Linked DNA regions of Homo sapiens: region 2 is linked to region 1. Evidence: fine-mapped expression QTL. A gene starts in region 1. The other region holds a variant in brackets. All regions are shown on one strand. Distances are from middle to middle.

Region 1 (8,334 bases):
AGGACTTTTAAAAGAATATGTGGAGAAATTAAGTTTTAGGTGGCCACCATCTATCTTACATAAGCCTGCCTACATAAGCCTGCCTGCCTGCCTTCCTTCCTTCCTTCCTTCCTTCCTTTCTTTTTCTTTCTTTCTTTCTTTTTGAGACAGATCTTGTTCTGTTGCCTAAACTGGAGTACAGTGACATGATCTTGGCTCACTGCAACCTCCGCCTACTGGGTTCAAGTGATTCTCCTGCCCTTAGCCTACTGAGTAGCTGGGACTACAGGCGTGTGCCACCACGTCCAGCTAATTTTTGTATTTTTAGTAGAGAAGAGTTTCACCATGTTGGCCAGGGTGGTCTTGAACTCCTGGCCTCAAGTTACCTGCCTGCCTTGGCCTCCCAAAGTGCTGGGATTACAAGTGTGAGCCACTGTACCTGGCCAGGTTTTCTATATTTATTAAAGAAAAAAAAAAAAAAAGACTGGCCAAATTCCCAAAACTATGGCTTCTGAATACGATTTTCCAGTAAAAGGAATCAGAATTATATAGAGAAATGACTGAGTCCATGTCTGGGGCAGGAAATGTAGAAGGTGAGCCTAGAGTATCTTGTCTTATAAGGAAGGAAGGAAACTGTCAAAAATGACTAGAGTCATGTCAAAAAGACAGAAGCGAACTTTGGAGGGACCATACCTGTTAAAATTAGACACCTTGAGCATCAATAAGGATAATAACCATAATGATAGAAATACATTAAATATATTTAAATGGAAACCTGTGAGTTCATAATGATAGCAAAAATGAACTTTATTGGTTGCCTCTATAAGGATGCTAGGGAATCAATTCATTATTTTCAAAATGGTAAACGAAGGAAAAGAATGAAGCATTTGTCTTCTCTTAGGAATTGTACCTCTGAGTAAACAAATAGTTGATGCATGAAAAGTTATCTTTATAAAAGTATTCCAGCTAATAAGCAAAGAAGAAATGATAATACATCACCACTCTGCAGCCTCTAATGAATTTAACAGATTTAGGCAATAAATGATAGATGCTACATCAGAAAAAGAGCTAACCACACCTTAGGTGCCTCCTGATGGAAGTACCCAACACCACCTATGAAGTGTTCTTGACAAAAAAATTAAACCTGCATCTGATCAAGCCTCTAAATCTACTTAACAATTTACCGAACAATATGATAAACTTATGATGTAAAAAGATACCATAATGATGCACTCAGCAAAATCCAAACCATGGGAAACACATTACAACTAACTTCTTCTTTAATGAATTTCAAGGAAAAAGCGAGAGAAAAAAAAATGATGGGGTGAAGGGAGAGGTGAAAGGAAAATTACTTGTAGATTTTGACACCTCAGAGATACATCAACCAGTGGCAAAGTTTGAACCTTATTGAATCCTGATTCATACAACTATAAAAAATTTTGTGAATGAGGTAACTGAGGAAATATAAACAGTCACTGGGTAGATATCTGGGACTTACTATTATTTTTAGGTTTTAAATTGTATTGTGGTTTTCTTTTCTTTAAAAAAAGTCATTTTCTCTTAGAAATACATACTGAAATATATACAGTTGTCTAGGATATCTTCAAAGTAATCCTGCAGGCTGGATGCGGTGGCTCATGCCTATAATCCCAGCACTTTGATAGGCCAAGGCAGATGGATCACTTGAGGCCAGGAGTTTGAGACCAGCCTGACCAACATGGAGAAACTCCATCTTTACTAAAAATTAGCTGGGCGTGGTGGCGCACACCTGTAATCCCAGTTACTTGGGAGGCTGAGGCAAGAGAATCTCTTGAATTCCGGAGGTGGATGGTTTCAGTGAGCCGGGATCAGACCACTGCATTCCAGCCTGGGTGACAGAGCGAGACTGTGCCTCAGAAAAAACAACAAACACCACCAAAAAACAACAAAATAATACTAGAGGAGGAAGTGAGTGAAAGAGAGTATAGATGAAACAAGACCGAAGGTAGGCAATTACACAAAATAGAATATATATGTTATAATATATATATTATTTACATATATATAATGTATAGTTCTCTCTACTTTTCCCCCAATGTTTGGCACATCCCATAATAAAAAGTTATTAAAAACTGAGGGTGATTTTAATCTTGGATGACTGAAACATCCTCGTTATCTTAGTCTTTGAACTTTTTGAGTCTTTAAAATTTCTCACATAAAAAGGATAAGAAGGCTGGGCACGGTGGCTCATGCCTATAATCTCAGCATTTTGGGAGGCCGAGGCAGGCAGATCACCTGAGGTCAGGAGTTCAAGACCAGCCTGGCCAACATGGTGAAACCCTGTCTCTACTGAAAATACAAAAATTATCTGGGCGTGGTGGCGCACGCCTGTAATCCCAGCTACTCAGAAGGCTGAGGCATGAGAATCACTTGCACCCGGGAGGCGGAGGTTGCAGTGAGCCAAGATTGCACCACTGCACTCCAGCCTGGATGACAGAGATGAGACTCCATCTCAAATAAATAAATTAATAAATAAAACAAAGACAAGAAAAATTTATAAATAAAATTGTTACATGACAAATTGAGTTAAATATTTACATTAAATATTGCAAGGGGTTATTTTACCATTTCACAAGCAAAACACTAAATTTCCCGTAGAAAATGTTTAACAACATGCCCAGATAATTTATAGAAGAAAAAAATGTCAAACAAGCATATTTATAAGTGTTCAGTTGAACCAATATTGAAAAAAGTAAAACAAGATTTTTTAATGTATCAAATTATTTCAGATTATATCTAATTTTCACTGCTGGGTTTCTGGAAAGCAATTTGTCAACATACATTCAAGAGTCTTAAACATGTTCATATCCTAAGGAAATATTTTTAAATGTAGGAAAATAATTTTGTTCAGGATTATTCATTACCACATTTCTCAAAAAGGAAAACACTGGAAATAGAAAAATATTTTATGTTTAAGTAAATTAGGTACCGTTATTTTTAGATCTACAACTGCGAAGACTTAAATAAAACACTTGAGTTACACGAGAAAATGGTCAGACTAACAATGACTGAAAGAAGGACATATAAATGCAGAAGAAACAGACTCGAGAAATGTCAAAATGTCCACAGTGGTTATATCTGGTTGTTGATTTATGCGTAATTGATTTCTCTATACTTGTTTTCATTTTTCACACATAATAAGCCCTGTTATAGCCAGCAAAAAATTACAAAAAAAGTCAAAGTCATCCTTCTTTCAATCAGCCCATTGCCTTGCCCCCTATCCTCCTGACTAGACGGAAGCCCAGTGCATAATTTGTTTTTCAGGCAGAAGAACCCCTTTCATTCCACTGTTACAGATGAATCACCTACTGTGGGAGTAGTCTTGGTACTCACATCAAAGTGTAATTCATCAGTGACTGTGATTGAAAACAGATCCTTTACTCTTTCGTAAGTTAGGAAACAAAATGTGGGGGCAAATGAGGAAAAGAAAACTAAGAGGTTGCTGGGGAGAAAGAAGGCAAATGTCACCTGCTTCATCATTCTTTTTAGAGCTCTCAATGTGTACCTTCAGTATTGCTCAGACTTTTTTTTAATGTGTAGCAGTGTTGCTATGGTAACTGAAAGCTACATCTTCTTCCATAAAAGCTTTATTGCCTTCCCTAGTGGGAAACAGGCAACAAAAAAAGAGAGCTCCAAGTTTCTGGGAACTGAGTCTTTATAAGGAAATATATTTTGTTGTGTTTTGCACACTGTTTCAGGTTCTTCTTTAGGTCAAGGTCACCAGAAAGGGTGAGAGAAATATATTTCTGATGCGGGCTCTTCCAGGAATAGATTAAACCCAGATACCAGACATATTTCAGGATATGAGGGTAAAGCAGGTTTTACATGGCCATGTGAAGGGACTTCTGAAGGACAACCTGAGTATAAAACACGTTTTATTATCATGATTATCAAAAAGTATGTGTCAGCCTCTGTGACCATTCATGACTAGTCAGGGCGCTGGGTAAGACAGAAAGGTTCAAGCTCAGCTCACTCGGTACTCAGTCAAAGGCAGCCTTAGTGAGCACATACAACCACATCAAGGACAGTCACACAACATGAATACGGAGGACAAACTGGCATGCCATTTGGTCTCACTGTTTCCATGCGTCCACAGCTCATTTCTAACTTTGTGCTTTGTGTATTTGCTTGTCTTGTTTACCTGTCAATAAGGCCTTCTCTATTTTTTTTAAGTCCCAGTCTTCCTTAAAGACCCAGTTATGAAGCTCCTCCCCTTTGAGAGATTGCCTCCTTTTAAACCTTATTATATGCAGTTAGCATGAGCTTTTAGCATTTATGTTTTTCCCCAGGCATTCAATGATCGTATGATCATTGAAGTGTTTTATAGATAATCATATGTAGGTTTCTGATCCTTCCTAGATAAATGCTATATTAAAGATGGAAGGTTTGGAGAACCTCCACCTCTCATCGGTTTTTAAAGAAAATGGCCTGTGGTGCTCTGAAAGAGGCAGTTAGTTGGAAATTCCAACTGCCTGTCCTTTAGATTTTCTAAGCATGCTTCTGTACTTGGTAGCTGCTGATTGGCTGTTACCAAAGGTGACTAGAGTGCTAAGCCAGTCAACAGGGAAAACTTGGCTCCTGACTTTGGGTCTTTCTTCTCAGTCTATATGGAAGAAAACTGAGAAAAAATATAAAAAAGAAGAACACAACTAGTTGCGCATCTCCTAAAGAGGTAATTACAGTAAAAAATATTAAAATAAGGACCCTGCTGGAGTATGAATTTATAATGTGATCACTATTCCATAATAATGGAGTAACTATAAATGAACCAACTGGGGGAGGAAATAGCTTCCTTCAATGGGGCAATTCCCAATGTTTATTTAGTGCCAGAGAAGAGAAAATGCCCAGATACATGACTTGTATCCAGTAATTATGTAAAACTTATAATAATTACAAAGGAATGATAACTGGGGGTAATTTAACTGCTAAGTAGGTCAGTAGGGGAGTGTGATGAGGAAAAAGAAGTTGCTGCAGTGTATGGAGATATGGAATTCAGAAGTAATACTTGTCAAGTGCTTATTCTGTATAGAATATGTTAGATGTTTTAAGGTATTTTTCATTTAATTCTCACAACAACACTGTGAAGTGCCTGTTATCCCCATTTTACTGAATAGAATATGAACTCCAAGAAGTTAAATAGCTTGCTAAAAATCAAATATTTCGATGGACAGACTTCGTCTTAGGCTAAAGTCTATGTTTTTACTCTAACTATGAGCTGAAAGTTGAAAGAAGATAGTATCAAATAAGGAAAAGTTGTAATATTGAAGGGAAAATAAGAAGAATGAGACTGGAACTATGCCCCAAAGAATTAAAGAAACCAGTAGGTAGCAGAAATTCTTGAGCTTGCAGGATGGCAGATAAGAAAGCTTGCAGAACAAGCTTGCTGACATTAAAACCAGAATTTCCACCACGTGCTTCATACTAACTCTCTCGAGTTTGCACAGGTGACCCATGAAGAGGCATAAAGATTCTAATAATGGTGTTGTATCATTTAATTTGAATGTTTAGCAAAGTGATATAAGATTTTTCTGGTAAAGGGACTATTTTCAGAGTTTAACTGTGATAATGTCTCCACTTAATGTTAAATTCGTTCTTACACCAAAAATATACTTGAGCATTGCACCATGCCGACAGAATTTTAATCTACCATTTGTTTCCTCTTACCTTGTGAAAACAAGTTGTTTTCTCAGATGATTTTTAAAAATGCACTAAAAACCTTCAGTTCTCCCCTGTTAATGTGATAAGAATGAATTCAAAAAAATCAAACTGTTTGAGCTTTCTATTGTCAATTAAATGTATTTAATAAGCAAGTCAGTTTTGATGAAGGAAAAACACCAGTTACATTTAATTTACTCAGCAGTTGTCAGGAACTGCACAAAGTTCTGAGATTTTATTCCACTTAGAGTTGGCAAATTAGTATGTTTCTGTTTTCTTGGATGCTGGCAAAAGACACAAGACTCCTAGGTCAGAGACGAAGGACTTTATTACTAATAGCAAAAGCAGTAGCCAGAGTGTCCACAGGTTGCTCACTCCAGTACCTCCTGTCCCCCAAGTTCCTTAGAGGTGAAATTCATCATGGATGCTGTGTTAGTTTTCTAGGGCTGCCATAACAAAGGCCCATACACTGGGTGGCTTAAACAACAGAAATTTATTTTCTCACAGTTCTGGAGGCTAGAAATCTGAGATCAAGGTGTCTGTAGGGTTAATTCCTTCTGAGGGCCATGAGGAAGGAACTGTTCATGCGTCTCTCCTGAGTTTATAGGTGGCTGGCTGTCTTCTTCCTGTGTCTTCCCTTCATCTTCCCTCTGAATGTCTTCCCTCTGTGTCTTCACTTCACCCTGCCTATGTCCAAATTTCCTCTTCTCTGAGGACACCAGTCCTATTGGATGAGGGCCCACCCTAATGACTTCATTTTCACTTCATCACCTGTTTAAAAATCCTATCTCCAAACATGATTGCCTTCTGAGGTAAGGGTGGTTAGGATTTCAACTTCAGAATTTTGAGGGTAGAAAATTGAGCCCATAATGGATGCTTATACACGTAGTGGAGTGCATTACAGGAGAGGTACAGTGAGATTAAGCAATTCACCATGGAAACAAGCCTGCTGTTGTCCAGGGTGCCTTACCTCATCCCTCAAGGCTGGTGGCTACAAAACACAAGCCTGAGATGAACACCATCCAGGGCCTTGCATTCTTGGCACACTCAACGAGAATGTGCAGGGAAACTCAGGACCATGTGAATTGTCTTCCCCAAAAGCAACGTTGTCAAAATATTAGATTAAGTTACAGCTGTATCATCCTCAGAGTCTTCATCAGTTCAGGCTCTGTTTTACATAGCTGTGTAACTGATCTCACCTCTCTAAAGGTTACCTACTGAAGGAAAACCTGAGCCACATCTCTTTTTCTAGTTTGTAATAATTATACCTATAAATTTACCTTTAATACCAAGTAGGGAGTAAATTTAGAGTTTAGGCAACTGTTGTGTTGTCTGCTTTTGTCACACAGTGTGAAATATTAAGAATATTGAGATTATTTCTTTACTACTTTGTAGTTGTTTATAGCAAAAGGAATTCAAAAATATGTTCAGAAATTGAGTGAAAATAATTCTTATTTATTCCAACAGATGGAATCGCCACTTATATATGTTTCAGTTTTGCTTTTGAACATATTTGAATTTTCATCAGGAATAGTATATAATAAAGGTAAGTTTCAGACCATCTTACTCTCTATTTCCTTCTCAGGAGTTCTTATTTGTGTCTCTTCCTTATTTACAGTAAAAAATTTTTCTTTTAGTATTTCTTCTTTATCTTATCTTCCAATTGTTTCCCAATATTGTCAATTATACTCTGGTCTAGAGGCTTCTAATATCCCGAGTACCTGGGATTACAGGTGCCCACCACCACGCCTGGCTAATTTTTGTATTTTTAGTAGAGATGGGGTTTCACCCATCTTGGCCAGGCTGGTCTTGAACTCCTGACCTCGTGATTCACCTGCCTCAGCCTCCCAAAGTGCTGAGATTACAGGCATGAGCCACCACACCTGGCCGATGGCATGAGATTTTATCACACTGCTCAGAACAGTGCACAATGTAAAACTTACAAATTGCTTATTTCTGAAAGTTTCCACTTTATGTTTTTAGACTATGGTTGGCTACAGGTAACTGAAACTGTGGAAAGTGAGATCACAGAAAAAGGGGGACTGTTGTGGTTGTATAACTGTGAATAGGGCAATGAATGAATTTCATAAATGGCATTTTTTTCTGTACGTTTGTCCCACAGTGGATTTTTATGGTAGTCAGAGCAGGCATTCCATTGGTGGTTACACTTGTGTGGTTTCCCTTTATATCATGATTCTTGTTGAAGAAGTCACATGCTGTTGAAAGTATAACTTCTCTGGCACATCTTTCCTTTAGAAGCTTGCGAAAGAGTAATTTTCTGTGTTTTATTATTATAACAGAATCTAGCAAACTCTATAATCTGAGAATTTCTAGGCAAAGCAGTCCGTGGAGGGAAAGTTAGAAAAGTTTGAAATTGTTTCTCTGTCTCTCCTCACAGTATCTCTGCCTCTGTTTTTACCACCCAAGCCCAGAAGATCCTGTTGATATGAGTACATAATTCACAAAATGATACCAAAGTGCAGAGGACAAATCAATTAGTTGCAATGAGACAAGTGTTAGAAAAAACTCTTTGGCCAGGTGCAGTGGCTCACACCTGTAATCCCAGCACTTTGGGAGGCTGAGACAGGAGGATACCTTGAGCCCAGGAGTTGGAGACCAGCCTGGGCAACATGGCAAAACCTCTTCTCTATAAAAAATACA
Region 2 (8,334 bases), 430 kb after region 1:
CACCTCCCAAAGTGCTGGGATTACAGGCGTGAGCCACCACACCTGGCTTTTTATTGCAATTTCTGAGAAAAGTTTGAAAATATGTATCTTATGGGGCAAGGACAATCAACAGGAAACTGTTTGGCAAAGAAATCGGAATTTGTTCTGGTAACAAGAAAATAGTATATTGACTTACTATTTTGAATTTTTCTTACAGTCTTAATCTGGTTTTAATATCAGGGTAATTCTGGCTTCATAAAATGATTTGGGAAGTATTCCCTCCTCTTCAGTTTTCTGATGATTTTGGATGTTGTTGGATGGAGAGGTATACAAATATCAATTATGTTAAGTAGGTTGATAGTATTGTTCAGGTATTCTATATCCTTATTTACAGATATTCTGTATACTTGTTCTAGAAAATAGGTTCTGTTTTCATTGTAAGAGACAGGGTTTCACTCTGTCGCCCAGGCTGGAGTGCAGTGCTGCAATCATAGCTCACTATAACCTCCAACTCCTGGGCTCAAGCAGTCCTCCTGCCTCAGCCTCCCAAGTAGCTGGGACTATAGGCATACAACACCATGCCCAGCTAAGTTAAAAATACTTTTTTTTTGTAGAGATGGGGTCTCACTATGTTGCTCAGGCTGGTCTTGAATTCTTTGGTTCAAGTGACCCTCCTGCTTCTGCTTCCTGAAGTCCTGGGATTACAAGCCTGAGCCACCACAGTCAGCTGAAAAGAGGTTTTTAAAAAATAGTCAGAGAGGGCACAGCACACAAGGGAGTTATCCAGGGAAAGGACATCATCTGCCCCAGCAGCTCACATTTGTGGCGAGTGGCTCAGGACTGAAGTACCCTCTGAGTGCCCGTCTATGCGGTTTAGTCCCCTTCCCACAGCAGTTGCTTAAGTTCTGGAACAGCCATCCTGGGTACCCTCTGGGTCTTCTGCCCTGAGGGTCCCGGCTATTTTCGTGTCTGCTCGAGCACTTGACCTGCTCCCCAGCCCTCCTCGCTGACTGTGGGGCCTGCGCCACGCCGCGCTTCTCCCTCTCGGCAGGTGGAGAACTCCACGCTGAGTTCCCAGAGCGCAGCGCTCACCGCGCAGTACACGCTGCTGCAGAACCACCACACGGCCAAGGAGACGGAGAACGAAAGCCTGCAGAGGCAGCAGGAGCAACTTACAGCGGCCTACGAGGCCCTGCTGCAGGACCACGAGCACCTGGGCACGCTGCACGAGCGGCAATCGGCCGAGTACGAGGCCCTCATCCGCCAGCACAGCTGCCTAAAGACACTGCATCGGAATCTGGAGCTGGAGCACAAGGAGCTCGGGGAGAGGTAGGGCCTGGGGAAGGAAGGGGATCTGGGGAGGGGTAGAGTCCAGAGGAGAGGCTGGGCCCAGGGGGAAAGGTGGGGCCTGGGGTAGATGGGTGGGACCTAGGGGAGAGGCAGGGCCTGGGGAAGATGGGTGGAGCCTGGAGGAGATGGGTGGGACCTGGGGGAGAGTGATAGAGCCTGGAGGAGGGGTGGGGCCTGGGGAGAGGGGTGGAGCCTGGAGGAGAGGCAGAGCCTGGGGAGAGAGGTGGAGCCTGGAGAGAGGCGGGGTCTGGGGGAGGTGGGTAGGACCTGTGGGAAAGGCAGGGACTGGGGGAGATGGGTGGAGCCTGGACGAGAGGCGGGGGCCTCGTGAGAAGGGTGGAGCCTGGAGGAGAGGTGGAGCCTGGAGCAGAGGTGGGGTCTCAGGAGAGGGTCTCAGGAGAGGCAGGGCTTTGGGGAAGTGGGCAGGGCCCGGGGGAGAGGCAGGGTGTGTGGGGAGGGGAGGTGAAGGAGGGTGGAGGTGGGGCCCCTGGGTAGGCCTGCAGCGGGGCCTGAGGCCAGGCCTGGGGAGTCTGTCAGGCTGCGCGGAGGACTGGGACTTCCCTGGACCTCCCCTGCAGGAAATCTCTTGGCCAGCTGCTTCCCATTGTTGGGGCACCTGAGCTTTCCCAAAAGGAAGGAAATAAACGTTACCTTTAGCAATTTGGAATTTGTGCAACTGAAGACAGTAGTAAGAGGGGCTCCTGTGTGGAGAAGGGGATGCCTCTACTATTTCCAGTGGGCCTTTGGGGCCCTGATCCCTAAGGGTTCTCTTCTGTCTCTTTTCTCCCCAAAACAGAAATAAGGAGGGAATTCTCCACGGCTCCGTTTGTAGGGGTATGCCTTCTCTGGCCTCCCAGCTCTTCTCTTTCATATCAAGGTCTCGCTTGCTTTTTTTCATTTTTAACCTTTAATTATGGAAACTTCCGAACATATAGAAAGGAAGCAGAATCATATAGTGAAACTCTTGTGTATGCATCATGCACTCTCGACAGTCATTTATGTCCTGCTGTTCTCATTTCATGTGCACCTCCCACTCTCCACACCCTCACCCCATTTTTTACAGGTAAAACTTACATTGAAATGCACACATCTTAACTTTGCACTCTTGACAGTTCATGGTCTTGGGTTTTGTATTCATTAAGTCAGCCAATCTGGGCTGGGATTCTGTCTCCTGCTGATCAGTGATGGTACCAGGCACCTGCGCAGGGCATGGCAGGATCCAGGGAGGGCTAGGAGAGGTAGGATGCTGCTCTCCAGAGTCTGAGGGGCAGGTGTGATGTGCACCTGAATCTGATGCATGAGAGAGACATGGCTAAAGAGAGGCTCTCAGGTACTTGGAGTACAACAGAGGGAGCAAGATCTACTTCCTTTGCCTGGGAAATGGCCCTGCTGATGGTATATCCTTTGGAGCCGCCTCAACAACATGGCTAAGTGATCGTTGGTTCTTCAAGGTGGGAGTGGGGAGGACATCTCCACGGTCAGGAGCCACAAATGTCATTGAATCACAAAAGCCTTGTGCGGGCGCTGATGATGCTTGTGGGTTCATGGGTGGTGATGACATTCATTTATTCACTTGCCAAGTGCTTCCTTTTTGTCTCTATCTGGAGTTCTTCACCCCTTTTATCCATCCAGATCTCCATCCTTCAGGGGCTGTTGAGGCATCTGAAACTATAAGACTACTCCTTCCGGCCTAAAGTAGCATCTTCTGCCTCTTTTCACTTTGATCTCTCCCTCGTCTTCCCCCACCCATCTTGTTATTTGTGTGACATTTATTGTGTACGTGGTGCTGTGTCTAGACATGGTAGGAGTTGCACCCAGCTGACAAACTAATGAAGCATTCGTGTAAGTCTGATACTAGCATGATGCCCAGCACTCACCAGGCACTTGCGTGCCTTATTCTTAGTGTTATGTTATGTCGTATTAAATAATGCTGTATTGTATTCTTTCCTTCTTTCTTTATTTTGAGATGGAGTCTCACTCTGTCGCCCAGGCTGGAGTGCAGTGGAGCGATCTTGGCTCACAGCAGCCTCCACCTCCCGGCTTCAAGCAATCCTCCTACTTCAGCCTCCCAAGTAGCTGGGACTACAGGCATGCACCACCACACCCGGCTAATTTTTGTATTTTTTAGTAGAGATGGGGTTTCACCATGTTGACCAGGCTGGTTTTGAACTCCCTACCTCAAGTGATCCACCTGTCTCGGCCTCCCAAAATGCTGGGATTATAGGCGTGAGCCACCGTGCTGACCCCTTATTGTATTCTTAATGTGCATTCAGAGAGCAAAGGTTTTGGCAGGTGGAGTCTGGACTGTTGTTTTCCCTGCAGGTCCTTGCTCAGTACAGCATGTGGTAGTTACTCAGTGCTTTTTGCTGGTTGGACAGATGACTGGAGGCTCCCTTGCTGTGTCTGCAGCAGGGCTACAGGTTTAGGAGTGTAGGTACATGGCACACAAGGATGATGGTTTTCTCTTCTTCTCATTTGACACTAAAATCGGAGACGCTCACCCACTCATTGCTCTAACAAGCATTCACTACGTGTCATTCCTCACACGGGGATTCAGTGGTGAGTAAGAGTTATAAAGTTTCTGCCCTACAGTTGGGTCATTGCTAATGGTTAGAGACATGCTTGATTAATGTGCTTTTCCAACAAGGTGCAGTGGAGTCCTGAAGAGAAAGGCCAGAAACCC[C/G]AGGGACACTGGCTAGCCTCTGTCAGATTGTCTTTGGGTGTGAGACACTCAGGAAGGGGTCTGTAGAGAAGAATTTGCCTGAATGGGAAAGATCAGGAGACTGTGCCTCAGACTTCTCAACACTTCCAGTCTGCTAGGAGATCCTGGGTCACCCGTGAACACACGAGGTTGAAACAGGCTGGGAAGGGGAGGGGCCGGGACCTATGGGGCTACATCATTGTACTCTGCCCCCCAAGAGATGGCCAGTGCAGCCGACAAAGATAGATTAGAGCCTGGAGAAGATTAGAGCCTTGAGGGTAAGGAGAAAGTTGTGGGGACGGTGAGGGCTGTGGCTAAGGCGCCTGAGGAGAGCTGCTGTGTGTATGTGACAACTAGTCCCTGGCAGCTCCTGGGTGAGCCTCTGTCCCCTGGGGAAGGCCAGACTAAGAACAAGTGGATGCAGGCTCCTAAGGGGAGAGGGAGAGGCTTCTCCAGCCCTTGGAGGGTGAGATTAGCTGTGATGTGCAGCGGAATTCCACTGTTTGTTTTGTGGTTTCTCTTAGATTTATTTGTGCTTAGTGAACTACCTAGTAGCGTATTTATAATTCCCTAAAAGAGAAGGGCATGGAGCTCAGAAAATGTAGTCATCACATTGTCAGGTGGCTAAAGGAAGAGCGACTGCTTTATCAGGGCATGGAGGGACTATGGAGACAGAACGGGCTGGAGGAAGAGGATTCTGGGCTCCAGGGCTTGGCGCTGGCCTTGACATGGCTCCCAGTGGCTGCGCTCCCCGCCTGTTCCCTGCCCCATGCCCCTCACTTCTGCAGAGAGACTCTCCAGAGGAATCCCATTTTCTCACGGGAGGCACGCAGATCCTCTGGGATGTGAGTTACCTGTCGGAAAAGAAGGCCCTGGCCAGACTCACGGCAGGTGCTTCCCTCCAACAGGCACGGTGACATGCTGAAGCGCAAGGCGGAGCTGGAGGAGCGGGAGAAGGTCTTGACCACTGAGCGAGAGGCGCTGCAGCAGGAGCAGAGGACAAACGCCCTCGCCATGGGCGAGAACCAGAGGCTGCGGGGCGAGCTGGACAGGTGAGCGCCGGCGCCCGGCCCTGCACATAGCAGCACCCCAGATTCTGTTCAGACTCTCCTTGCATAGCAACCACTGAGAAGTTCAAGTCCCCTGGCGATCGTGGATTTTTATCCCTTGCTGTGTGAACAGCTGGGTGGGTAAAATAAGCTAAAGGGCAACTCTAGCTGGTTGCTGGCATGAGAGCACTCAGGTGACACCTGGGGATGGCGCGTCGTCTGAGTTAAGTGGTTCTCCCCTCCCACCCTTGTGGTGAGGATTGCATCAGGCACAGGTGAATTCATCATCTGGCATAAGCCTGCCTCTTGCTCATGAAGGAGAAACTGCAGATTGCTCATGATTCACAGAACCCCTATTTGTGAATCCACCTACTTGCTAAAGTTTTATTTGCCGCCCCAAGACCAGTCTCCGTGGGGCTTTCGTGGACACGCACAGAGTGGTGAAATGCGGGAGTCACTGGATGCGCACCTTCCCAGCTGAGGGCACACACGACAGCACGCTGCCTTCTTGTTTCAGCTCCTACTGCAAACAAATGTCCCTTTCAGAATCTCTTCAATGCCACGGTTTTCATATTTTGTGCTTTCGGGAAGTGACTTTGCTGTTTAAAATGACCCACAATTGTAGTACTGAAGTGCTGTTTCATGTCCCTAAGCAGAAGGTGGCTGTGATGTGCCTTACAGAGAAAAAGTCTTAGATAAGCTTTGTTCAGGCATGAGTTATAGTGCTGTTGGCTGTGAATTGCTGCATAAGGTATCTTCAAACAGAAACCCACATAAAACAAGGTTATGTATTGATCAGTAACAAAAATGTGGCCAGAGGCTCCCGGGAACCTAATTCTATATTTTTTCCCTAGGCTGGATGCTTCGCTGTTCACTAATTCAGTGTTTACAGCAACTTTATAGAATGTGACTACCACACATAATGAGAATCGACTATACTATTGTTATCTTTTTGGCTTTCTTTTTAACAGATGAGGAAACAGGTTGGGAGAGATTAAATAACTTGTTCCGAGTCAGTGTTTCTAGTGAATAGCAGAGTCAGGATGGAATCCAGGTCCTGTCTCATTGCAAAGGCTTGACCATACGAAATTCTTCCTCCTCCCACATACTCGAGTTCGTGTATACGGGGGGTTAGAAACTCAGTTACCTTGGCTCCCCAGGCAAATAAAGCACATGGGTGAAACAGTACCAGACATAGACCACAGACTGTTGAACGGAGAATGCACATCGTCTAAAAGGGCAGCAGAGAATCGGCTCCAGCAAAGGCCGCCAGCTGGAGGCGGGCCCGGGACTGCCTGGGCAGCCTTTTGTTTTTTATATTTTAAGAGAACCTGAATGTTTGGGTATTGATGTAAACTTCAAATTTTTTAATGCTGGCCACTAAATTTTTTTTTTTTTTTTGAGATGGGATCTTGCTCAGCCACTGAGGCTGGAGTGACATGATCATGGCTCACTGCAGCCTTAACTCCCTGGGCCTAAGTGATCCTCCCAGCCCAGCCTCCCAAGTAGCTGGGAGCACAGGTGTGCGTCACTATGCCCGGCAACATTTTTTTTTTTGAGACGGAGTCTTGCTCTGTCACCAGGCTGGAGTGCAGTGGCGCGATCTCGGCTCACTGCAAGCTCCGCCTCCCGGGTTCCCGGCAACTTTTTTCTACTTTTTGCAGAGATGGGGGTCTCACTATGTCGCCTAGGCTGGTGTGGAACTGGCCTCAAGCGATCCTCCCTCCTCAGCCTCCCAGAGTGCTGGGATTACAGGCGTGAGCCACCATACCTGGTCAACTAATTTGTTTTTAAAAAGTAAAATTGTACAGGCCAAATAAGACACGTCTATGTCCAAATCAAGTCCACAAGACCCTGGTAATGAGCTTTCTGATATAAATCTCCAGAGAACTCCCAGTTGGATAATAGTTGTTTTGATGATAGCAATTTTAATAGATTTACATAATACACACCATCTCACACTTTATCTCACGAGCTGAAATTAGAAAGGGGCTTGGAATTGGGAAGAAGAGCTGGGCAGAGACAGAATTTTAGAGCAAAAATGGTCTAGTTTAGTGGTTTAAACATTTTTTTAAACAGCAGAATCTTGTTTTTCAAGTGTACACAGATACCAAAGCTGTAGCATGGAAGTGATGGTAGCAGTGATGCTGTGTTGAAACAGGTGTCTGAGCTTGCCTGCTCAGTCTCCCTGGAGGCTCAGTGTAGTGGCATCAGGGGTACCCTCATGCATCCCCAAAGAACACAGTTTGCTGATGGACAGTTTTGTCCAAGCTCCTTATTTTATGCATGGAAAAAAAAAAAAGCCCAGAGAGGTTGTGATTTTGTCTAAGGTTGCACAGCCTGCCACTGTCAGAGCTGGGACATAGCCCAGGTCTCTGGGCCGTTACCTGTTTGTCAGGCTCTTCAGCTCCTTTGCCCTGTGACTCTTCCTCCTCCAGGGTCAATTTCCTGCACCACCAGCTGAAGGGGGAGTACGAGGAGCTGCACGCCCACACCAAGGAGCTGAAAACCTCACTGAACAACGCGCAGCTGGAGCTCAACCGCTGGCAGGCCCGCTTCGACGAGCTGAAGGAGCAGCACCAGACCATGGACATCTCGCTGACCAAGCTGGACAACCACTGTGAGGTGAGGCCAGCGCCAGGGGAGCCTCGGGAGACAGGGATGAGTCCCCCAAGGGGACAGCCCAGGGCTCAGCCAAGCTGTGAGGGGTCCTCATGGGCATTTGTGCTCAAAGACAGAAATGTGTGGAGGTGGCACAGAGGCTGCGGTGAAGCCAGAGGTGCTGACGGGGGTCATTGTGGCTTCTGGTGGGACTGTATACGAAAACACCCCTGTCTGACCGTCACCTTTTGCAGGGTCGGGAGAGGCACAGTGGGGACGGTTGATGATGTTTTATCTCGATCCTCTTAGCTGTGTCTATACTGTCTTCCTACATCTCTTCAGTTCAGTAGTCACACTGTCCTAGAGAAGTGGTGTGAATTTGCTCCATTTTGGGGTGTGGCTGCCTCTGGGACGGAGCTCACTCGGGAGTCCCTGGCTTCCAGAGCCGTCCCTTCTAGTACACAAGGTTGGAAATGGCCTCACGCAGCAAGACCCTCTCCAGATGAGATCTTAACAGACCTCAGCACATGGAAGGCTGGTGAGGCAGGTCTGGCAGGGAGGAGCACGTAGGTCTCACCCCACCTCCTAGACAGCCCCAGGGACAGCTGGCACCTCAGGACAAGGTTTGCTCTTTGAGAAACAGTCTCAGACGCC

What was found.
Region 2: its variant is fine-mapped to the expression of CATSPERB in visceral fat (GTEx, PIP 0.98).

Annotation. Positions count from the first base shown.
Region 1 is chr14:91,728,286-91,736,619 of GRCh38, reverse strand. CATSPERB (catsper channel auxiliary subunit beta) reads left to right here and starts at 4,534. Exons shown (of 27, transcript NM_024764.4): 1 at 4,534-4,690; 2 at 7,141-7,219. The coding sequence starts at 7,141.
Region 2 is chr14:91,296,675-91,305,008 of GRCh38, reverse strand. CCDC88C (coiled-coil domain containing 88C) reads left to right here. Exons shown (of 30, transcript NM_001080414.4): 20 at 1,031-1,308; 21 at 4,939-5,082; 22 at 7,518-7,704. Among named protein-coding and RNA genes, the nearest start is that of GPR68, 56 kb to the right of the region's middle. RefSeq lists silencers at 1,427-1,586, 1,747-1,806. The variant C/G (reference allele first, on the strand shown) is at 4,013.